3 linked regions of the Homo sapiens genome follow. The protein of the gene in region 3 interacts with the protein of the main gene of each other region in a pairwise test. Each region holds a gene or a part of one and is shown on either strand. Other genes may lie near its edges.

Region 1 (6,340 bases), on a different chromosome or scaffold from region 3:
CTGCTAGATGGAACCTGGAATCTCTCATCTACCTCTTAGTCTGTCAGTTTCTACGTGTGAGAAGCAAGCTTGTGGGCCAGTGTCCTTGTACATGCTGTAGCACTTAAAAAATAATTCCAGGGTTCCCTGGAAAACCAGTCCCAGGGTTCCTATGATCTGTAGTTTCTACCTGGATTATAACTGGTTTTGGGTACCTGAATTTTGATTGGTTAGCCTTAATTATAGTCTGGCGTGATCATGTAGAATCTTTTCTGGTGAACAGATCATAAAGTTCTATCAAGGAGTTCTATCAAGGCATCCATGTCAGTGGTGCTATGCTGGTTACAACTTGAGATTTTTGAAATAAAAAATTTGTCATATTCATGCCTCTAAATATGTGTTCTTTTTCTTTACGTTATTAAGGTTGAAACCAAAGAGGGTAATATCTCTTTGCCAGCCCTTCTTTGACTAGTACTTTGTTTTAAACCAAACCTTCTATTAACAGTTAATTGGTCGTTCCTCTCAAATCATTCCCTTCTGCCTTCCCCCGCCTTTTCTGTCTTTGAGCTACGCACATGCATGAGATTTTGCTTTTCAGTCTACCCAGTTGCTCTCTGAGGGCCTGCGTAATCTTGTGCTGCTCCCTGGACCTGCCTCCCAAGTTGGAAACTCCATCTGCCAGTTTGGCTTGGCTGCTGGGAAGAGCTGGAAGCTGATTCCTTGAGCACAGAGCAAGGCATTGGCAATGGCAGTGCTGTGGCCTGACCTTGGAGAGAAGTGGGTAAGGTGGTGATTAAAAAAAAAAAAAATCCACCTGGGGGCAGGGAGGGGCTGGGGGGACAGAATGGGCAAAGGGAACAATATGTGTAGGTGCTGAAACTAATTTTAAAATTAAACCCACCTACCTCTAATCGTTCTGACCAAAATAAGAGTTACGTCCTTACCTAGTTCTCATTTCTTCCAGTTAACTCCTTTTCTGGAAGTGCTCCTTAATTTTCCTGATGGTCTAGGTATCAAGATTCAAGTGCCATGGTCACAACTGGGTTCTGTTTGTCCCGTCCTTGGTGAGGGACAAGTGAAGGAATCTGGGCAGAGAAGATGAGGGGTAAGGTGGTTTGGACACGTTCCAATAAGGAAAATGCCCAGGGCTGAGGGCTGGGGTGGGAAGCAGAGCCAGGCAGATCATTGGATGCTGTGACTTTGAAACATGCTCTTTGTATTTTTAAAGTTTTTTTTGAAACGGTGTCTTGCTACATTGCCCAGGTTAAGTGTAGTGGTGATTTAAAGAGTGATCATAGCACACTGCAGGAAACGGTATCTTGCTACATTGCCCAGGTTAAGTGTAGTGGCGATTTAAAAAGAGTGGTTATAGCACACTGCAGCCTTGAACTGGCCTCAAAGGATCCTTCCCGCTCAGCCTCCTGAGTTGCTGGGACTATAGGGGTGCGTCACCATGCCCAGCCATATCCACTTGTTAGCTTCCCCATTTACAGGCCAAGACGGTCTCTCAGAGAATTATTTAATAATAGAATTACCATACTTTTGGCGCAAATGTGTCCAACACCAATGTGACAAGTACATATATCAGAATCACTCTTTCCTCAGAGAATCACACCTTCCCTTGGCTCTGCCTGTGGATCCAAATCAAGCCTGGGTGTGTCTGACAATACCAGGGCACGGTTTGCTTCCCGGCCCTCCATCTCTACTGTTTGGCTACAGCTTGAGTTCACTAGGCATCGGCTCCCCTCTCAGGCCAGCCAGCAAGTTGTTAGCTGCCAACAAGGACATGGTGTTGCGGGTTCTGTGGGTGGCACTGCCAATGTGGGGCAGAATCACTGGAAAGGAGAGAGAGAGAGAGAGGGAGATAAGAAGGGTGGTTCAGCAGCCTTCAGCTGGGCTGTTTTCATGGCTTGGGTTTGCCGGTAAGAAGAATAAAGAGAGACTACCTCATGGTTCCATGCTTTGCCTTCTCTCCCACCTTCACTAAGCTTGACACTCCCCCAGAGCTGAGGTTCAGACTAACAGAGTGAAGGGCCTCCAGGCTACTAAAACCCAGTCACAATGTGATGAAAGATTTGTATTCTAGGGCTGGGCGCAGTGGCTCATGCCTGTAATCCCAGCACTTTGAGAGGCCAAGGCAGGCAGATAACTTGAGCTGAGGAGTTTGAGACCAGCCTGGGCAACATGGCAAAACCCCGTCTCTACAAAAAATACAAAAATTTAGCCAGGCGTAGTGGCCCACACCTATAGTCCCCGCTACTTGGGAGGTTGAGGCAGAAGGATTGTTTGGGCCTGGGAGGCAGAGGTTGCAATAAGCTGAGATTGCACCATTGCACTCTAGCCTGGATGACAGAGGGAGACTCTGTCTCAAACAAAAAAATGGTGAACGCATAGGAGTTTAGCACTGGCCACCTGTACCATGTGCCCTTGAAAATGATGCCACATGACCACAAGGTTTCTGATCTACAGAAATAACTCCAAAATGAAATGCTGAACAGCACAGTTATCTCTGATCCCACCCCAGAGCAAGTGAACTTACTTGCCCCCAAAGAACCGTCAGCTGGGTGCAGTGGCATATTCCTGTAGTCCCACCTACTCCAGATGCCGAGATGCAAGGTTCGCTTGAGCCCAAGAGTTCGAGGCCAGCCTGGACCACATAGCGAGACATCATCTTTACCAAATAAACCCCATAAAACTGCTTTTGGGTTTTTTCCAGGTAGAAATCATGTTTCCTTTTAATTGAGTACATTTTCTTCTTTAAATTTTATCATTATTGTAATAGGGTCTTTGTTGCCCAGGCTGGTCTTGAACTCCTGGCCTCAAGTGATTCTCCTGTCTTAGCCTCCCAAAGGGCTGCGATTACAGGTGTGAGCCACTGCGCCCAGCCATAATTCAGTACTTAATTCACAGAGTTTCTTCTCCTCTCTGGTAACAATTAGGTCCCCTCCTCTCAAGAACATTGCATCTGATCAAACTGAGAGCCAGCATGAACATGGACCCCAAACCAGAGCTTTCAGAATAACAATGAACAGCAAAAACCAGCCTTTCCCTACACTTAGGAAGGGACTGTGAATGGCAGGGTCCAAATTTTCACCATCCAAATAGAAAACCCGGAGCTGAATGCCAACATGGAAACCAAAATATGTCAGGAATGAAGTATAGTACCCCTTTACATACTCAAGGTCAGGATAGGTTTGGAGAAATTTGCATCTGACTATTTGGCCTCTTCTAGTAGAGAAGAGTTTTTGAGACAGGGTCTTGCTTTGTTGCCCAGGCTGGAGTGCCATGGCATAGTCAGCTTACTACAGCCTCAACCTCCTAGGCTCAAGTGATCCTCCCACTTCAGCCTCCTGAGCAGCTAGGACTAGAGGTACATACCATTACACATGGCTAATTTTTTATTTTTTATAGGGATGGGGTTTCACTATGTTGCCCAGGCTAGATTCGAACTCTTGGTCTTAGGTGATCCTCCCGCCTTGGCCTCCTAAAGTGCTGGGATTATAGGCGTGAGCCACCCTAATCAGCCCCACCCCAACGTTTCAGACATATAATGAATCAGAATAAATCCGCTCACTCACAAGAAACATTCCTGGATAATGGTTTTTGGTTGCTGAGATTGAGTAGCACATTATTTCAAAGTGGCAAAATTCAGGGCCATCTAGGAGAATTCAAAAGTGGTGGCTATATTTGCCGACAGGTTTACACAGGACACATATAAAACAACCCCCATTTTTTTAGCGTATATGTCAAGAGGCCAAGACCCCGATCATCAAAATATGTTATTTCGTACATTACAGTTTACAGGACAACAGAGGGAAAGACACTTTGTTGGAGGGTGACTAAATGGCATTTTGCAAAAGGTCCGTGTCACTCTGAAGGGGTGGAAGGACTGGAGTCCTATGGCCTTCATTAACTTGACCCCTCCTCCTCTTTGGTTGCAGTGGCCTCAGTGGGAGCTGCTACTTCTACATGTTCTGCGGGCTTTTCCTCTACCTCTGCCTCACCTTCTTGGGGACAAAGATCTGGGTATTTCTGCATGCATTCCTGCATGGCCCCAATTGGTCTACACAGTCTGACCCCTTGACATTCTCCATACTATAGTGGAAGCAGGAAAAGTCCAGCTTGAATTGTTCCCCACAGGGGCCGCTGGCCCTTCCCCCAAGGCACAGGCAGTTCCAGTTAATGTCTCCATTTGGCAGCCTCAATCCGTGCTCCCCCCATAGGGATCACTGGGGTCATCAGCTGTGTTGCTTGGAGCTGCATGGTCTTTTTACATCACAAATGATTGCATCCTTCCCTTCCTGCTGGCAGTAGGACATGGCTGCAGCCCAGTGCTTAGATTTTGTAGAAGCAGCGGTGGCGGCTGCAGCTTCATGCCCTGACTGCCCTCTCCTCAGACCAAGACCTGCCTTTTGAAGCAGTCCCCAGGCCGTGAGCTGAATTCCAGGACCTAGGGTGGGGGTGGGAGGGCAGTTTTCCTGGCTGTGGGCGACAGCCCTGACATCACACCCAGTGCTCCTTGCAGGCTGGGGTGGGGGAGGGACGGGAGAGTTTCCAAGGGCTGCAATAATGGGAGCATTCACTGGGGAAGGCAGCTGAAGACCTTTTGTTTAGGTTTCCATTCCAGAATCCAAATTAAGGGCAGAGACTGGCCCGGACAACCTAAGGCCCTGATCACTCTTAGTCTGGAGGCATAAACTCCACCAGCTACCTGAACAGATCTTAATATAAAGAATCATTAACTACGCATCAAGTTGTTAACTCACTGAGCAGGTAACAAAAACCCAAACCACAAAGTGTGGTCCCTGGACCAGCAGCATCAGTGGCATCTGGGAGCCGTGAGGAGCACACTCTGTCAGACCCCACCCCAGACCTGCTGAAATAGAAACTCTCGGGATGGGGCTAGCAACCTGTGTTTGATCAGTCACTCCTCCAGGTGATTCTGACGAACTCAAAAGTATGAGAATTGGCCGGACACTCATGCCTGTAATCCCAGCACTTTGGGAGGCAGAGGCAGGTGGACCATCTGAGGTCAGGAATTCGAGACCAGCCTGGCCAACATGGACAAACCCCATCTCTACTAAAAATACAAAAATTGGCTGGGCCTGGTGGTACACGCCTGTAATCCCAGCTACTCGGGAAGCTGAGGCAGGAGAATCGCTTGAACCCAGGAGGCAGGGGTTGCAGTGAGTTCAGATTGCACCACTGCACTCCAGCCTGGGCGACAGAGCGAGACTCTGTCTCAAAAAAAAAAAAAAAAAAAAAAATGTGAGAACCACTGCACTGTGGTAGCACAGAGGTAGCAACTGCCAGAGGCACTTCTGGTGCTGCAACTCAGACTTCGGTGGCACGGGCACTGACTGGCTGTTGCTCTTGTCTCTGAGCAGGGCTCAATGGGGCTGGTTCACCAAGTGTTGGAAAAACTGCAAACTGGATTCCCCAGCCACTATGGGAAGGAACTGGTGCTGCTAGATGAAGAAGTGCTGCTGCCACTCCCCCAAAGACAGGAAGGGAGGGCAGGAGGGAGCAGGCCCTTCCACACCCACGCTGACAAGGCCTGCCAGTGCAGCTGGCACAGCAGAAATGGGGTGTGCAGAGGCCTGGCCCCAGCCCCACAAAGCAGAAGAGAGAAGGGGGCTTTGTTGTGAAACAACAGCTTGAAAAACTGGCACGAGTTATATTGGCATTGTCATTACACTTTTAATTTTTCACAGCTAAACTGGTAATAGCAATTTATAGTAACAGGTTTTACACGAGTCACTGTGGTGTAACACATGGAGACATGTAGTCAGCCCACTTTGTTGTTGTTGTTGTTTTGGAGATGGAGTCTCACTCTGCCACCCAGGCTGGAGTGCAGTGGCACAATCTCGGCCTACTGCAACCTGTGCCTCCTGGGTTCAAGCGATTCTTCTGCCTCAGCCTCCCAAACAGCTGGGACTATAGGCATGCACCACCATACCTGGCTAATTTTTGTATTTTTAGTAGAGATGGGGTTTCACCATATCGGCCAGGTTGGTCTCGAACCCCTGACCTCGTGATCCACCCACCTCAGCCTCCCAAAGTGCTGGGATTACAGGCATGAGCCACCACGCCTGGCCCACTCTTTTTTTTTAAACAAATCCACTCACACCTACATTCTGTTCCTTTAGGGACAGAGACCCAGCAGAGCATGCGCAAGAGGACTGCTCCTGTCATACACCCATGTCACTGACAACATAAACATTTACGATCCCTGGTGTGTCCCTTTGGGTTCAACACCTGCTCACACTAGCTCCACACCCGGCCCCTTGGGACCCCCTCAAAAACACTGGTCCTGCAGGGCAGCAGGGAGTTTGCATCAGAAAGTGCAGTTCTTACCACA
Region 2 (8,213 bases), on a different chromosome or scaffold from region 3:
CTATTCACAGTCACCCCTCTGCTCACTGAGTTAAATGCATATCTGATTGCCTCCTTTGGAAAGGCTAATCAGAAACTCTAAAGAAAGCAACCATTTGTCTCTTATCTACCTATGACCTGGAAGCCCCTCCCCGCTTAGACTTGTCCCGCCTTTTCCGGACGGAACCACTGTTCATCTTACATATGTTGATTGATGTCTCATGTCTCCCTAAAATGTATAAAACCAAGCTGTGCTCTGACCACTTTGGGCACATGTCTTCAGAACCTCCTGAGGCTGTGTCACAGGTGTACATCCCCAACCTTGGCAAAATAAACTTTCTAAATAAACTGAGACCTGTCTCCGATTTTGGGGGTTCACAAGGCCATACTGACTTGTCCCCTGTGTGAAGCCCAGCAGGATCCTTTCACAGCAAGCTCTTTTCACTTGAACCTTTGTGCATCAGTGCCTAACTCTTTCACAAGATAAGGGGTCCTACAGAATCGAAGCAGACCCACCAGAGGGTTACAAGTTCCTGATACCTAGTACAACCTGGGAAAGAGAGCAAAAGCCCTTTATTCCTGATGCAGCTTCCCCAATCTCTAGCCAATTTGCACCAAAAGCCCAAGAAACTCCTAACTACAAATTCCTTCCTGGGGTGGGGTGTTTGGGAGGGTGGGCAGGGACTTCTCTGGGGTCCTGCATGCACAGCTAGGATCAAGGTTCAGCTTATAGTAACCATTTCCTCATTTTAATAGTAAAAACAACCACAACAAGAAAAACACCCCAAGGCGGAGATTTCATATGCTAATGATACATGCGATGGGTGTTAGACCACGTGGATCCTGAGCACATGTGCCAACCGCAGGTCTGCCTTTGCATACTTGACCTCACCAGTATTTTATGATTATGTACGTATAGCTCCCATAAAAGGAATTCCTCTTACAGCACTAGCTGCTGTCTCTCCCACTGAGCACCCCACTCTGCCTCTCAAAGAGTACTTTTGCTTTGCAACAAATTTCTTCGCTTACTCTTACTTTGGATTTGCTCTCAAATTCTTTTGCACAGCAAATTCAAGAACCTGAACTGGTCCACCGACAACAAAATAACAAAATTCCCTTATATAACATTTGGAGTCTGCCTTAACTGATTTGAATCAAGATGGAATGCAGTAGGATGAGATGTGCCTTTTAAATTTGACACAGAAGAGTGAGGAGTATTACCATGATATCATAAGTTCTAAAATCATGGATGAACTTACAAACAACAATACTGGGGCTTTACCTATCCCAAAGCATTCCATATATCAAATTGAAACAATCAAAAGCTTCTATTTTATTTTAGTTTATGCGTGACATTGGAGCAGTTTGGCACTATGAGTTCATCCCTGAAGTCTTACTTTGGAATCATGCTTTGAGAATCCCCTTCTACTGCATTCCCACCTCACCCCCATGAATCAGTAAACTCAGTGAAAATTATCACAAAAAAATGCAAAAAACAATAAAAGATTTCTAAATGAAAAGTTTAATACAATATATTTTGTGAACACAATAAAGATAAAGAACCAATAAAATAGAAAAATTCTGGCAAACTTGAACAAACAGAGACAAAGAGAGAACAGGGAGAAAGCAGGAGAGCATGGGAGGGGCAGCCTCCTACCTTTCCAAGAGAAAAGAATGACTGAAAGGCTGACAGACAAATAATATGTTTGAAATGGAGATAATGTGTACCTCACTGGGAAGGATATTCTGTAGGCTCAAAACGATTTAAAAAATGAGGAATTTAGAGGATTGGAATAATTTCTTAGCTAGTGGATTACAAATTATTTCATATTTGGTGCCATGACTGGAAGAGAAAGAAAGCAAGGGAGGGAGTTTAAAATGAACCAGAATGTTCTCACAGAGTCAGTGGGATGGTGATGGGCTCATTGGAAACATGAAGTCCACCCTGCTGAATGACATCAATCCCACTCCATGTGTCCTAATAGTCAGCACAGAAGAATGGTCTACAACTGTGGGCCTGCAGTGAAGGGAGAGATGAGCCAGGGCAGTGGGCTCAGCAGCAAGAGGAGGCACAGCACAAGGGGCGGGGGCAGCTGGAGATGACACAGGTTGGGCGATAGCAAGTGGTGTGGCAGGAGACTCGGCCACAGACTGGACGCAGGCAGCAGCAGGGGCGGCAGCAGCTGGATTCACAGCAAGAGGGGCGGCAGCAGCTGGAGATGCTGCAGCTGGGGTGGCAGCAGGTGGGCTGGCAGCACACAGACTGGCAGCACTGGGGTCTGCAGCAGCTGGACACACAGCAGCTGGGGCGACAGCAGCTGGAGATGCAGCATCTGGGGCGGCAGCAAGTGGGCTGGCAGCACATAGACTGGCAGCACTGGGGCTTGCAGCAGCTGGACACACAGCAGCTGGGGCGACAGCAGCTGGAGATGCAGCATCTGGGGCGGCAGCAGGTGGGCTGGCAGCACACAGACTGGCAGCACTGGGGCCTGCAGCAGCTGGACACACAGCAGCTGGGGCGACAGTAGGTGGTCCTGCAGCAGGTGGTCTCACAGCAGCTGGGGCGGCAGCAGGTCTCCTGGCAGAGGTCTCGGCCACAGCCTTGGTGAGAGCACACGGAGCCACAACAGGAGTTTACCATGGTGTCAGAGGGTGAAGGATCTAGTTGGGTTTCTAGGAGAGTGAAGTTCTTGTGTTTGGAAGTCTCCTGGGCCTGTAGTCCCTTTATACCCTCCTGAAGGCCCATTGCCACCACATCATTATTTCCTTGTTATTATTTACCTACTGGAAAAATTAATCATGTAATTACATCATTGTGTTTCCAGTTAAATACTCCAAAACAGAGAAAATAACCCATTTCCTTTTCCTGCTGTGCTCCTGTGTTTCCATTGGAAATGCATGTCATATTTCTTCATTAGTGGGGAGTCACCTTTGTCCCTGGTCTATGCAGTGTCTTTTACAAAGCACTGGTCACAGGACTCTCTGACATTTTGTTTTTAAATGTGACTCTCCCTCCTACCTGCAGATTGCTGTCTGCAAATCATGGGGGATGATTTTTATAATGTGAATGTATCTTTTGTTGTCAAAGAATGTCCTGGTCAGGTGAAATGTTGGGAAGGAATTAGAAGGAAGCACTCATTTGGGGAAGGATGTCCCATCTGTAATGAGGATGACTCTGATCCCATGTGTGCATCTCGGATGGTCGGGCAGATGGTCAGATCCCAAGAAGTTCTAAACTCTGTCAGATCTTATTCCACAGCCTCCAGCGAAAGTACTTACCCATGACTCACTGCCTTTAAAGGGTAAAAACACATTTTGCTGTATGTCTTACAGTATATGCATTATGAGTAGGAAGTTTTGATTTATCTTTTTTTTTTTTTTTGACAGATTCTCAATCTGTCGCCAGGCTGGAGTACAGTGGCATGATCTCTGCTCACTGCAACCTCCACCTCCTGGGTTCAAACGATTCTTTTGCCTCAGCCTCCCGAGTAAGGTGGTTTGCGCCATCACACCCAGCTTACTTTTGTATTTTTAGTAGAGACAGGGTTTCACCATGTTGGCCAAGATGGTCTCGATCTCTTGACCCCGTGATCCACCTGCCTTGGCTTCCCAAAGTGTTGGGATTGCAGGCATGAGCCCCCAACACCCAGCCTGATTAATCTTTGATCATCAAAATTGCATGATGGATTTTTCATTTACAAAAGCATTTGTTATATATAAAGAATATTTAGAATTATTAAGCCTTCAATAACATGCATCCAAGATGTTCTATTGGGTACTCTGGGTGTAGAACAGATAAACCCTCAACTTTTTCTTGCAGGTACTTGCATAAGACACATGGATAGGAAACAGTTTGGCAGAAATGAAAAGAATTACAATTATTTTCATTAAACAACTAAAATAAGAAATGTATAATATGTGGATAAGTTCCATACACCCTCATGGTATGTATATTACTTGTGAAGTATTGACTATGTAGCAGGCATTGTACCAAATATCTTACATTTGTTTCATTTTCACGCTTTAATAGAACCTTATGAACTAGTTTATATTCTTATTAGTCTTTTAGGGGAATACTCAAAAGAAGCATTAAAAACTTAAAACAAACAAACAAACAACTTGTCCAAGGTTAAAGAGAAAGTAAGCCTAATATGTCTTAGTGTAGCCAAGAAAGCCGTAAAGAATACAATTTGCTAAGCTTGCTGAAACTGCTTCATCTTCTTGGAATGTTTCATCTTTTTTTGTCCACTCTGCAAACTCCTACTCATGTGTCAAGACCCAGTTAAAATATTTCCTCCTCAATAATATCTTTCCTGCTAAGCTACCCCATTCATGTATCATGATTTCCTGCCTTGTGCTCATAATTTATACATTCTCCTGTATCATAGTCATTTACTTCTGTCTTTCCACCACGTGCAATGCAAATACCCTGAAGGCTTGCGCTATGGCATTTATTCTCGTTACCATGATACTCAGCACAGAGAACACTGGTGGTAAATGTTTGTTGAGTGAATGAAGGTTTTTTTGATGACATAGAGGCATGTAAGGTCCTTTAAAAAATGTATATATCTTTTGACTTCTGGATAAAAGGGAGGAAAACATCCCAAACAAAGAAATCATAATTTCATTTCAGGAAGACTAAACTCATTTGTGTGATAGGTAACATGTCACCCGATAAATAACATACGTGGAAACTGCGGAAGTCAAGATTCAATTTATAGAATGAGACTTGTTTATAGATAACCAAGAATACAGTGTTGAACGTGCATGCCTATATTCACACAGTAAAAAGACAGGAAGGAAGTAAACGCCAGATGGTAGCACTGGTTCTCCTTCACCTCCTGACTTCCTCGTTTTACTCTTGTTGATTGAAATAACTATTATTTCCTGTTTCGTATCAGTCAGCCAAAAATGTTTGCTGATAATCTGTTGTCTTAGCTTAAATTCTACCCAATGCAAACCTTGAGAAAAAGACCTGAGTGCACATAATTTATTTGGGGGATGATCCCAGGAAGCACAAGTGAGGAAACGGTGAAAGTAAGACAGGAAAGGTAGAAAATCCCAACAGTGTTTGTGTTAATGGTAAGGCCCCCACTGTGGGCAGCTGGGGACGAACCCCAGGGACAAGCCTGAGGCTGGAGGCACTTGGCCACCATGATTGCACACCTGTAAAATCCTGTAGAGTCAGCTGGGTATTAGTGTGAATCGCGAGATCAGATAAAATATGAACTTATACTAATCCATAGACTTTTTATACACTAGCAATAATTCTCTCTAAAATTTAATGGAGAAAAATCACACACTGGGGCCTGTCGTGGGGTGGGGGGAGGGAGGAGGGATAGCATTAGGAGAAATACCTAATGTAAATGACGAGTTAATGGGTGCAGCACACCAACATGGCACATGTATACATATGTAACAAACCTGCACGTTGTGCACATGTACCCTAGAACTTAAAGTATAATAAAAAAAAAAAGAAGCATGTACTCACAGTTCTCAAGAGTAAATAGAAAAATATGTAAATAAATCTGCCAAGCCTTTGTGAAGGAAAATGTTAACATTTCCGGAAGGACATAAAATAATGTTTGAATAAATGTCAGAACAAGAGATGTGCAACGAAAGCCAAGTTTTCAAATAAATACATACATGTTTTATGCATGCATTTAATGAGGATGTATCTCAATTTGCAACATTAGGTATTGAATGGGATTGGCAAAGATCATGATGGGAAACTTACTTTTGTTCACATTGTCACATTCTTTTGTATTGTCTAAATGTTTAAAGAGCATATATTTGTGTATAAATGATCTAAACATCCTTAGAAAATAATAAATGTGATTTATATAAAATTCATAATTTTTCTACATATTCTGTTAAATATATTTTCTGCTATTATGTTTACATTCTTATTTCTTTCAGGAACTAAAATATTAAAAGTACATTTCAGTCAGTCATTTGAGCTCTCAAATTAGCTATCATGAATTTCAAATTGTTTTGGGGGACAGGCTGGGTTCCCCAGGAAGCAGTCACTGAGATGGAGAGCAATATGCAGGAGGTTTATTGAAGCATGCTCTTGGGATTAACACTGGGGAGGGCAGGGGAGGGGAAAGGGAGGGGAGGGGAAAGGGAAAGGGAAGGGGAAGGGGAGGGAAAGGGAAGGGAAGGGAAGGGAAGGGAAGGGAAGGGAAGGGAAGGGAAGGGAAGGGAAGGGAAAGGAAGGGAAAGTGAGAGAAAGATCAAGTTTGACACTGGGATAAATCAAACTGCAGGGCAATCTCCGTGGAAGTCTCAGATGAACCTATAGGGAGTTCTGGAGATGAGATGACCCATTAGAGGCATCCCTAGTTGGGGAGAAATGTGGGTCTTTATAGTTTCATCCTAAAAAAAGGGCATGACTTTGGACGAAAAGAAAAAAAATCAGTCTCCAGCATACCTGTGAGTTTTCACTAGGCCTGCTTCCTTCATTTCCATCACCTGCCTGGCCGTGAAGGTGGCCCTCTCTACATGGCAGCATGAACTCCCCATTGAAACTCTGCCAGTCAGAATGAAGGAGATCCACTGTGTTTGTGTTGAGGATTCATTACACATGACTCAGTAGAAAATACATGGACTTTGCTAAACCACCTAATAGCTGCTTTTACTGGAAAAAAAAAGAAATTGAAATACAGTGTTTTAAAAGATCACAGCTCTGTGCACAATAGTAAAGACATGGAATCAGTCTAGGTGCCCATCAACAGTGCATTGGATAAAGAACATGTGACATTTTCACACCATGGAATACTACACAGCCATAAAAAAGAATGAAATTTTGTCCTTTGCAGCAACATGGATGTGGCTGGAGGACATTATCTTAAGCAAATTTTTCCAGGAACAGAAAACCAAATATTGCATGTTGTCACTTACAAATGGGAGCTAAACATTGGATACACATGGACACAAAGATGAGAACAATTGGGGACTCCAAAAAGGGGGGAGAGAGGGAGAGAGGAAGGGCTAAAAATGACCCACTGCTCAGTACCTGGTGACAGAATCATTTGTAGCCCAAACCTCAGCATCACACAACATGTAACAAATACGAATATGTACTCTTTGATTCTAAAATAAAAGTTGAAATTATTTTTTAAAAGATGATGAGTTGTGATCAATCTTTCAAAACGTTTCCCCTGTTGTTATATTCATGGATATTTCATGACTTCAGCTTCACTCTTTTTGTCTAAAGAATACAAAATGACTAATTGATTTGCCTAAGCCTGAAAAGACTTTTCTAGAAAAAAACTAGGCAGTGATCGATGTCAGTTGACCTCTGTTAGAAGGTTGACTAATCTGTGCTGTGAGCCCTACAGGTGTAGTTAAATGTAATCACCCAGGACCTAAATATAAAACCCTTTTTAAAAAGAGAATAAGAATCATATTCAATTTTCAGTGCCAATAGAATAGAGGTTTATTTTGGTACATGGAAATAACAAGGTACAAAAATGTTTGCAAAAGACTTTAAGAGAGAGACTTCACTGGACTTCAAGGTTGGAGGCTTTAAGATCTGTGGCCCTACAAATGATGGAGGCAATCTTCAAATTCCTTAGGCATGATGAATAAATGTCCTGAAGTCAAAGAGGTGGGAGGATGTTGGAGGACAATTTGTCAATTTATTAGGAGATTGTCAATGAATTCCTTTGGAAGGAAGGGAGTTTGGACAAAAGGTAGAATGCAAATACAGAATTTCTAAGGATGAGGTTTGCTTATGGGACCCAGATCAATTCTCTTGAACAGTCCGCATGTTTGCAATGAGAGCCTTCATCTGTAGGAAAGGACGTAATAAGGAAGTGGTGTGTTCACAGCAGAGATTTAGCAGCAAGAGGAGGCACAGCACAAGGGGCGGGGGCAGGTGGAGATGACACAGGTTGGGCGATAGCAAGTGGTGTGGCAGGAGACTCGGCCACAGACTGGACGCAGGCAGCAGCAGGGGCGGCAGCAGCTGGATTCACAGCAAGAGGGGCAGCAGCTGCTGGAGATGCAGCAGCTGGGGCGGCAGCAGGTGGGCTGGCAGCACACAGACTGGCAGCACTGGGGTCTGCAGCAGCTGGACACACAGCAGCTGGGGCGGCAGCAAGTGGTCCTGCAGCAGGTGGTCTGACAGCAGCTGGGGCGGCAGCAGGTGGGCTGGCAGCACACAGACTGGCAGCACTGGGGTCTGCAGCAGCTGGACACACAGCAGCTGGGGCGGCAGCAGGTGGTCCT
Region 3 (8,545 bases):
TTTATTTTATTTTATTTTATTTATTTATTTTTTTGAGACAGTCTCGCTCTGTTGCCCAGGCTGGAGTGCACTGGCACGATCTCGGCTCACTGCCACCTCCTCCTCCCGGGTTTAAGCGATTATCCTGCCTCAGTCTCCTTAGTAGCTGGGATTACAGGCATGCACCACCATGCCCAGCTAATTTTTGTATTTTTAGTAGAGACGGGGTGTCACTATGTTGGTCAGGCTGGTCTTGAACTCCTGACCTTGTGATCTGCCTGGCTTGGCCTCCCAAAGTGCTGGGATTATAAGCGTGAGCCACTGTGCCCGGCCTATACAAAATTTTAAGATGAAGAAAGGGACAAAAAGTTAAGTAATTGTGAACCTAAATCTGTGAGTATGTGGTAATGTGTGTTAGGCCCATGGGGACCAAATCAAGTCCAGATTGCGTTCTGGGGGTAAGGGAGGCATATTTTGAAACACTATAATCAGTGTTAATATTTCATATTATGATTCCATATGTGAAAAACTCATTTTTATAATACAAACTTCAGAAAGTCAAGCTAAATAAAATCTTTGGAGGTAGGGATACACCAAATAATTTGTTTTTTTGTGTTGTGTTTTTTTTGTTGTTGTTGTTGTTTTTGAGACAGAGTCTTGCTCTGTTGCCCAGGATGGAGTACAGTGGGTTGATCTCGGTTCACTGCAACCTCTGCCTCCCAGATGCAAGCGATTCTCCTGCCTCAGCCTCCCGAGTAGCTGGGATTACAGGTGTGACCCACCACGCCCGGCTAATTACTGTAATTTTAATAGAGATGAGGTTTCACCATGTTGGCCAGGCACTGGTGTCGAACTCCTGACCTCAAGTGATCAGCCCGCCTTGGCCTTGCAAAGTTCTGGGATTATAGGTGTGAGCCACTGAGCCGGGCTAGTAATTTTTACAACTAGGAATTCTCCCTCAGGTGGGGCAGGGTCACATGAGATCTCAGGTTTTCACAAGAGGGCTGGGATCGACAAAGACTGAAATACTATAAATCTAGCAGGAGTGGGAATTTCCACTTGCTGGCAGCCCAGGCTGAGAACAAACCCATGAGTAGCACAAACCAAGTTATGTTCCAAAATCTCACAGGAGAGGGCACTGAGGGAAGGTGGAGTCCCTAGGGAAGACTACCTGGAAGAGACACTGTTTGGGCTTGGCTCTACAAAGGGCACACACAGTCTGGAAGAGAAACCTTGATTGGGCTTGGCTGTACAAAGGGCACACACAGTGGGCACAGTAGAGTGGGATGAGCCATAGGTGTGGCGTAGGACTATGTTTCTGGTGTCCGATTACCTCGCACCACTGCCAAGACACACATGGCAGCCAGCCCAGAGCTCCCTCTAGCAGACCAGTCAGCCTGCCCACTACATCCCAACCTTCAGTGCCTTCTGTACTTCTCCAAGCCCCCTCCTTTTTCCTAGGCCTCACCTACTCTCCCTCATCAGTAAACCCTCCCAATAACTCCAGCCCGGCTTCCTTGACTTCATTGCTTGCTTAAATCTAGTTTTACCACCTATCTTGTGCCAGGAGCTCCTCTAAACAAATTGTTACTGACTTACACTTTTTGGCATATCCTCCTCAGTGTCTGATTCAGGGCCAAGCTGGTAAGCTCTAGCAGCATGTGCTGAACTAAACGGACTGCCCTCTAAGGTTGGGCTCTGGATAGGTAAAGACAAAGAGCACCCTGTGTCTACTAAAAATACAAAAAATTAGCCAGGCGTGGTGGCGGGCACCGGTAGTCCCAGCTACTCGGGAGGCTGAGGCAGGAGAATGGTGTGAACCTGGGAGGCACAGCCAAGATTGCGCCACTGCACTCCAGCCTGGGCGACAGAGCGAGACTCCGTCTCAAAAACAAAACAAACAAACAAACAAAAAAAACAAATGCAAAATGGCCCATCCCCAGCAGGAAGTTAAGGGCTGGAAAAGGCTTTTGCTATTCCATGGTTAAGGACAGGGTTTTGAGCCAGCTAGACCTTAGTTTGAATCCAGGTTGTGTGACCTTAGGCAAGTGACAACCCCCCTGAGCTTTAGGTTCCTCAGTGGATACTGAAGACTGCTGAGCTTATGTGGCATGACACACAGGATGATTCCTGGCAGGGACAGTTGTGATGCTCAGGTGGGTTGAAATGTGGGGTATAAGGGACTCAGGCAGTTCTGCAGCTGTTGTTAAGGATGACTGGATAGCTTAAACTAGCCACCCAAGTCACAAAGAAGCCTCTTCATGTACAGATGCCTACCCAGATGCTCTCCATCTCCTCATATTCCCTAGGCATTGAGGCTGCCACTTGACTGTCTCAGGCCCATAGGATGGTCTGTTCCAGCCCCCAGTCTAGCATCCTCTAAATGGGCAGGGGTACCATGTTCAAATAGCCACCCATCCATCGAAGGGACAGCTGCTACCAAGAGCACCTTCCTTTGATTCTGCCTAAAATCCTACGGGGAACCCTGGCCCTCCTCTGTCCTCCCCAGCCCCAACCCACCAGCTGTTCAGAGACAGCCTCTGACACCTATGTTATGTGAACATGAACACTTGGATCTTGAGAGAGAGGGAGGCAGACAGGACCTGTGGCTGTGATCAGGCTGGTAAGTGACAAAATGGAGGCCCATCATCTTGCTACTACCATCCCTTATGTCCCTATACTGATGCAGTCATTAACTCCCATCTCCATGGAGCCTTCCCCAGTCCTGCAGCCCAGGTCCCCTGAAACCCTCCAGCAGAGGCAGTATGGTGCAGTGGATGGGACACAGGCCATTGACTGCGTCAGATGGATGTTGTTAAAAATCCCAGATTTAGCCAGATGGTATATAGCATGCACCTGTACTCTCAGCTCTTCAGGAGGCCGAGACAGAAGGATTGCTTGAGTCCAGGAGTTTGAGGCTGTAGTATGCTATGATCACACCTGTGAATAACCACTGCACTCCAGCCTGGGCAACATAGACCCCCATCTTAATTTAAAAATAGAGGCTAGGTGTGGTGGCTCACGCCTGTAATCCTAGCACTTTGGGAGGCCAAGGTGGGCGGATCACCTGAGGTCAGGAGTTTGAGACTACCCTGGCCAACATAGTGAAACCCTGTCTCTACTAAAAATACAAAAATTAGCTGGGTGTGGTGGTGCACACCTGTAATCCCAGCTACTTGGGAGGCTGAGGCAAGAGAATCGGTTGAGCTCAGGAGGCGGAGGTGGCAGTGAGCCGAGATCACGCCATTGTGCTCCAGCCTGGGTGACAAGAGCAAGACTCCATCTCAAAAAAAAAAAATTGAGGACAGGTGTGGTGGCTCACACCTATAATCCCAGTACTTTGAGAGGCTGAGATGGGAGGATCACTTGAGCCCAGGAGTTCAAGACCAACCTTGGCAATAAAGTAAGACCCCGTCTCTACAAAAAATTCAAAAATTAGCCGGGCATGGTGGCATGCACCTGTGCACCGGTAGTCCCAATTATTTGGGAGGCTGAGGCAGGAGGGTCACATAAGCCCAGGAGTTTGAGGCTGTAGTGAGCTATGATTGTGCCACTACACTCCAGTCTGGGTGATAGTCTGAGACCCTGTCTCAATTAAAATATACATCCCAGATTTGCGATGTTTTAATTTTTTTTTTGAGATGGAGTCTCACCCTGTCACCCAGGCTGGAGTGCAATGGCACGATCTCGGCCCACCGCAACCTTCGCCTCCCAGGTTCAAGCAATTCTCCTGCCTCAGCCTCCCGAGAAGCTGGGATTACAGGCACACACCACCACACCCAGCTAATTTTTGCATTTTTAGTAGAGATGGGGTTTCACCATGTTGGCCAGGCTTGTCTCAAACTCCTGACCTCGTGATCCACCCGCCTTAGCCTCCCAAAGTGATGGGATTACAGGCATGAGCCACCATGCTCGGCCGTGATGTTTTAATTTTGTGACTTTATGACTTTGTGGTTTTTGAGGATGAAGTAAGACACTTAGCTCTGCCTTACCCATAGTATATGTTTGCTAAATGTTAACTGTTTGTTATCAGAGCACCTGGTGACATTTATTTTATATATTTACTGGCATCTTTATGCGGGCCCCACAAAGTATCCTCCACGATCTTTGCAAAAAGCTCTGGTACCAAAGGGAAATGTTAGTGGCTCTTCTAGTCGCCATTGTGGCAGGCTGCTGACATATTTGGAGTGGATGGATTTTGCCAACAAACTGATGCTGCATTTATCTCTGTCCTACTCTGAAGAAAGCAAAGACATCCCTCAGCCCAGTGGCTATTAAGAAATGGAGAGGAGGCCAGGTGCAGTGGCTCATGCCTGTAATCCAGCACTTTGGGAGGTTGAGGCGAGCGTATCACTTGAGGTCAGGAGTTCAAGACCAGCCTGCCCAATATGGTGAAACCCCATCTCTACCAAAAATATGAAAATTAGCTGGGCGTGGTGGCAGCCACCTGTAGTCCCAGCTACTCAGGAGACAGGAGAATCACTTGAACCCTCCGGGAAGTGGAGGTTGCAGTGAGCTGAGATCGCACCACTGCACTCCAGCCTGGGTGACAGGGCGAGACTCCATCTCGGAAAAAAAAAAAGGAAAGAAATGGAAAAAGTGGAGAGGAAAGGATTCACAGGACCCAGCAGTGACTCTTCCGGCCCCATCCTCTTCAAGACCTCTGAGGCATGTCTGTGCCTCATTCTCTCCCTCCAGCCAGTGAGCACTCCACCAGCCCATCTATTCCTGATGCTCCCTGCAGGGCCTGCATTGCATGGGACCTAACCACACAGCTCCAGCTCAGAGGCCATCTGTTGGAGTGCATGAGTCCAGCCTAGTTCTTCATTCCCCTCCCAGGACCGAACCATACCTGGCACTGTGTTGTCAAGTATGAAAGCAAGGCACCCGCCCACAAACATCTCCGTGGTCAGCAGCACAATCAGAATCTGATCCACTTCAAGAATGCCTGTGGAATAGGCCAAGGGCCAATGGGTGTCATGGCCCAATCTGGAGAGCAGAGTTGAGGGACTTCCTCTTGTGCAGCTATGGCAAAGGAACAGTACAAAGCCCTGTCTCAAACCTATCTCTGTCTTTCCTATCTCTGGGTTCAAGTCCCAATTCTGCCAGTTGCTAGTTGTTCACCTGGGACAAATCACTGAGCCTCATCTTCCTCATCTGTAAAGTTGAAATGATAATGGAGAAATGATAAATGTAGATAAATGGAGCTGTTTTGAAAATTAAATAAGCACATGTAAAGGTCAATATCTGTCCACAGGAAGTGTCTTAGTAAAGGACAGCTGTGACCCAAGCTCTCAGCTGCTGGTTGACACCCAGAGTTGGGTACGATTTGTGGCTGTAGCTGTGTGGAGCCTTTGAGGGAGGGGGCTGTGCTCAAAATTTTGGGCCCACCCCGCCTTTGGAGACAGTAAACAGCTGGAGGCACCTGTATTGATGGCGCCAGGGTTGGACTCCAGGTAATTGGGCAGCGTGAGCCCGAAGAACATGGAAAATCCCAGCACGAAGAGGTTGCGAGAGGAGTTCATGTCCACAAATTGCAGGTTGGACAGCCCCACAGCTGTAATCATGCCTAAGGGCGCAAGAGAACGGCTGGAGGCGCCGCACACGCGTAATCCAGGTGAGTCCCACTCGGCGACCCGCACCGCGACCCGTGGCCCGCGCCAGACACTCACCAAAGAGAGTGCAGAACATGCCCCCCAGGATGGGGTCAGGGAGCGAGGCGAAGAGGGCCGTGAACTTGCCGATGGTGCCCAGGACCAGCATGATAGCCGCACCATACTGCACCACGCGCCGGCTGCCCACCTGCCGGGGAGCCAGCGGGGAAGCTAGACCTGGGGACGAGGCTGGGGCGGGGTTAGTTCCAGGGGCGGGGCCTGTTATAAGAGCGAGGCATAAACCGGCTGGGGCTTGATGCGGGGGCGAGGCCTCTCAAAGACAGGGTGGGGCTAAACCAAAGTGGGGACCGAGTTGGGGCGGGGCCTGCGGCCCACGGAATTAGGGCAGGATTTGGCTCTGGCTCGTCGCGACACCTTGGTAATTCCCAGGACGCCAATGTTGGGACTGGACGAGGTGGACCCGTTGCCCGTGCCCAATAGCCCCGCGATGATGCAGCAAATGCCTTCGGTGAAGATGCCCCTGTAAGGAAAGGGAGAGTCGGGGCTTGGTCCAGCCTCTGCACCAGTCTGTGTTCCCCCATCATCTTAGCAAGCTGCCGTCCTCTGGGGCTGTGGGGGCTGCAGCTATCAGCTGTAGCACTCCCTACTACAGGCCAGAATGCTCAGGCTCCAGAGCTAGTCCTAGTGCCCTGGCACTTACTCCTGTGGGTAATTCTGGCCTTCAATTTCCTCCTGGGATAAATACCGGTGCCCGTCTCACAAAATGCTTCAAAGATTGCATAAGAATGCACAGTCAGAGCCGGGCACATGGAGGGCTGTCAATGACGGTGGTTCCCTTTGGACTCCACCATCTTCTCAGCTACTCCCAGCAAAGACAGAGGGGTGATGAGAGGGCACCCCCATCGCACAAACAAGGAGAATGAGGTCTGGAGCGTGTTCCCGACTTGCCTAAGCCTACCCCCTGGGCCTCCACCCCGTTCCTGTGTGTGCTTCCTGGGTGGCGCCTGAGGAGATCAGATACTGAGGAGGGCAGGTAGGCTACCTGTTGATAGCATGTACTGGAGGGGGTGGTGCACCAGCCAGGCGGGCACAGGCGTAGTAATCTCCGATGGACTCAATGATGCCTGCCAGAGTGGCGCTGAACATTCCCAGGACAGCAGCCGCAGTCACCGTGGGCAGGCCCCACTGACCTGTGCTCGGAGGGAGACAGGATGGTGGCTACAGTGAGGAGACTGTGATGGTTAGGAATAGACAGGGCAGTGCTGGAAGGAGCAAGAGCAGATCAGGAGACCTCAGGCTGGGATGGGAGCTATACAGTTGTGGGAGCTTATTTGAGTCACTCAGAGCCAGGAAGTGGGACTGAAGCTTTGTCTAAGTAAAACACCACTCTGCTGGGCGCACTATAAATGTGCGGCTAATGCTAGGTGTGTCACCTGCTGGATTGGGGTCACCAGGAGTCTGTCTCATAGGTGGTCTCAGTTGGGGGCAGAGGGGCCCAAGGGGTGTTGCTCACAGGGGTAGGGGATGCGGATCCAGGGTGCAATAGCCATGATGTCACCACGGGCATCGGTTCGTGCCTGGAAGCCATAGGCTTTTGGGTCTGTGGGCAGCACGTCTGTCAAGGTCAGGACATAGCAGAGCAGCCACACGGTCATGATGGCCAGCATGATCTGAAGGAGGGGGGTGAGGGGGCACTGAAGGCACTGGAGGTCTCTGTCCAGGCTAACCTGCTCCCACCTCAGCCCAAGCCCTGGCCATAGTCCCAGCCCCAGCCGCCTGCCAGGTCCTCACAGGAAACATTTTGAAGATCTGGATGCGGAGGAGAGTGAGGCCCTTGCCCCAGCGGTAGACAGGCAGCAGGAAGGTGAGGTTGCGCAGGTACTGGGAGAAGAGGATGATCAGGAGAATGGAGCTGGGGGCAGAGGCACAATCAGGAAGTGGATGGGAGGCCAGGCTGGGGCCAGGAGCCGGGAAGAAGGACCAAGGACATGAAGAGGGTAGGGTGCTGGGGCTGGGCAGGGATCAGGCCTGGTGCCTGCTCACCAAGCTGAGATGCCCCAGTGGGAGCCAGCTCGGTCGCCAGCAGCTTGGAAGACAGAAAGGCCAATGAGGGAGACAGTGGGGGTGACTGTGAGAGGCCCAATGTAGTTGAGCAGGGCCCCAGGCAGCCCCAGCAGGCCAATCACCACCTCCACCACGCTGGACACCATGATTGCACCCTGGACCTGGAAGGGCAAACATCAGCCGTAAGTCACCATGTAAAGGTCATGACCTGGCTGCTGCTAGCAGGAACAAAGCTCCTGGACCACCTCCTCAAATCCCCAAACTCAGCGGCCACCCTCACTCCCATATAGCCCCTCCTCAGGACCCGGCCTCTTCTATGCTTACATGCAAACCCACCTCCCGTATCCGTGGGTGCCAAATATGAGAGGTGTTCAGGGGCAGACTCCAGTTACCGTAGATCTCCTCTGGGGGTAGAGTCAGGGATACACACACGGACCAGGTACAGAGACAGAGAGGGAGAGAAGATGCTGCCATGGCTGCACCCTGGTGTTGACCCGGGACAGTTGCTCAGACCTCCAGGTCTCTGGGCCTCCCCTTTTCCCCAGTGCAGACCCCAGAAGTGTACCCACCTTCCGGGGGGCATTTCCATCTCTCCAGAGCCAGTATGGCTTTGGCTGGAACCAGAAATGCAAAGGCACTGGCCTGGAACAGCGGCAGCCTGGAGGAGAGGCACAAAGCAACAGGGGTGGGGAGGGGCGGGTGGGGAGGAGGGATAAAGATGCGGGGAGAGATCAGGAAGGGAGAGCACAGAGAGAGTGACAGAGACACAAGGGACAAGGGCAGATGGAAATCGTTGAGGCCCCAGGGAAGACCATCTCTAACATTTTGGCTGCCCAAGGAAGAAAACAAATGGAGCCCCCAGCTCAAAACCTGCCCCCTTCCCACCA

Evidence for each region.
Region 1: the proteins of SLC23A1 (region 3) and GRHPR interact in a two-hybrid assay, tested with the Homo sapiens proteins (one study listed by IntAct).
Region 2: the proteins of SLC23A1 (region 3) and KRTAP4-11 interact in binary tests that used the Homo sapiens proteins (3 or more experiments, as listed by UniProt).

What each region holds. Positions count from the first base shown.
Region 1 is NC_000009.12:37,432,135-37,438,474, reverse strand, and holds the end of GRHPR (glyoxylate reductase/hydroxypyruvate reductase), read right to left. Parts: coding exon 6,337-6,340; intron 4,375-6,336; exon of another isoform or gene 3,689-4,374; intron 3,638-3,688; coding exon of another isoform or gene 3,558-3,637; intron 1,815-3,557; coding exon 1,693-1,814; 3' UTR 1,485-1,692; downstream 1-1,484. UniProt on the Homo sapiens protein: Enzyme with hydroxy-pyruvate reductase, glyoxylate reductase and D-glycerate dehydrogenase enzymatic activities. Reduces hydroxypyruvate to D-glycerate, glyoxylate to glycolate, oxidizes D-glycerate to hydroxypyruvate.
Region 2 is NC_000017.11:41,115,697-41,123,909, forward strand, and holds KRTAP4-11 (keratin-associated protein 4-11), read right to left. Parts: upstream 2,678-8,213; 5' UTR 2,620-2,677; coding exon 2,032-2,619; 3' UTR 1,485-2,031; downstream 1-1,484. Other genes in the region: KRTAP4-12 (keratin-associated protein 4-12), read right to left, coding at 7,821-8,213. UniProt on the Homo sapiens protein: In the hair cortex, hair keratin intermediate filaments are embedded in an interfilamentous matrix, consisting of hair keratin-associated proteins (KRTAP), which are essential for the formation of a rigid and resistant hair shaft through their extensive disulfide bond cross-linking with abundant cysteine residues of hair keratins.
Region 3 is NC_000005.10:139,372,571-139,381,115, forward strand, and holds part of SLC23A1 (solute carrier family 23 member 1), read right to left. Parts: intron 8,317-8,545; coding exon 8,228-8,316; intron 8,063-8,227; coding exon 7,995-8,062; coding exon of another isoform or gene 7,983-7,994; intron 7,820-7,982; coding exon 7,638-7,819; intron 7,507-7,637; coding exon 7,386-7,506; intron 7,265-7,385; coding exon 7,108-7,264; intron 6,785-7,107; coding exon 6,637-6,784; intron 6,115-6,636; coding exon 6,009-6,114; intron 5,782-6,008; coding exon 5,652-5,781; intron 5,549-5,651; coding exon 5,405-5,548; intron 4,928-5,404; coding exon 4,832-4,927; intron 1-4,831.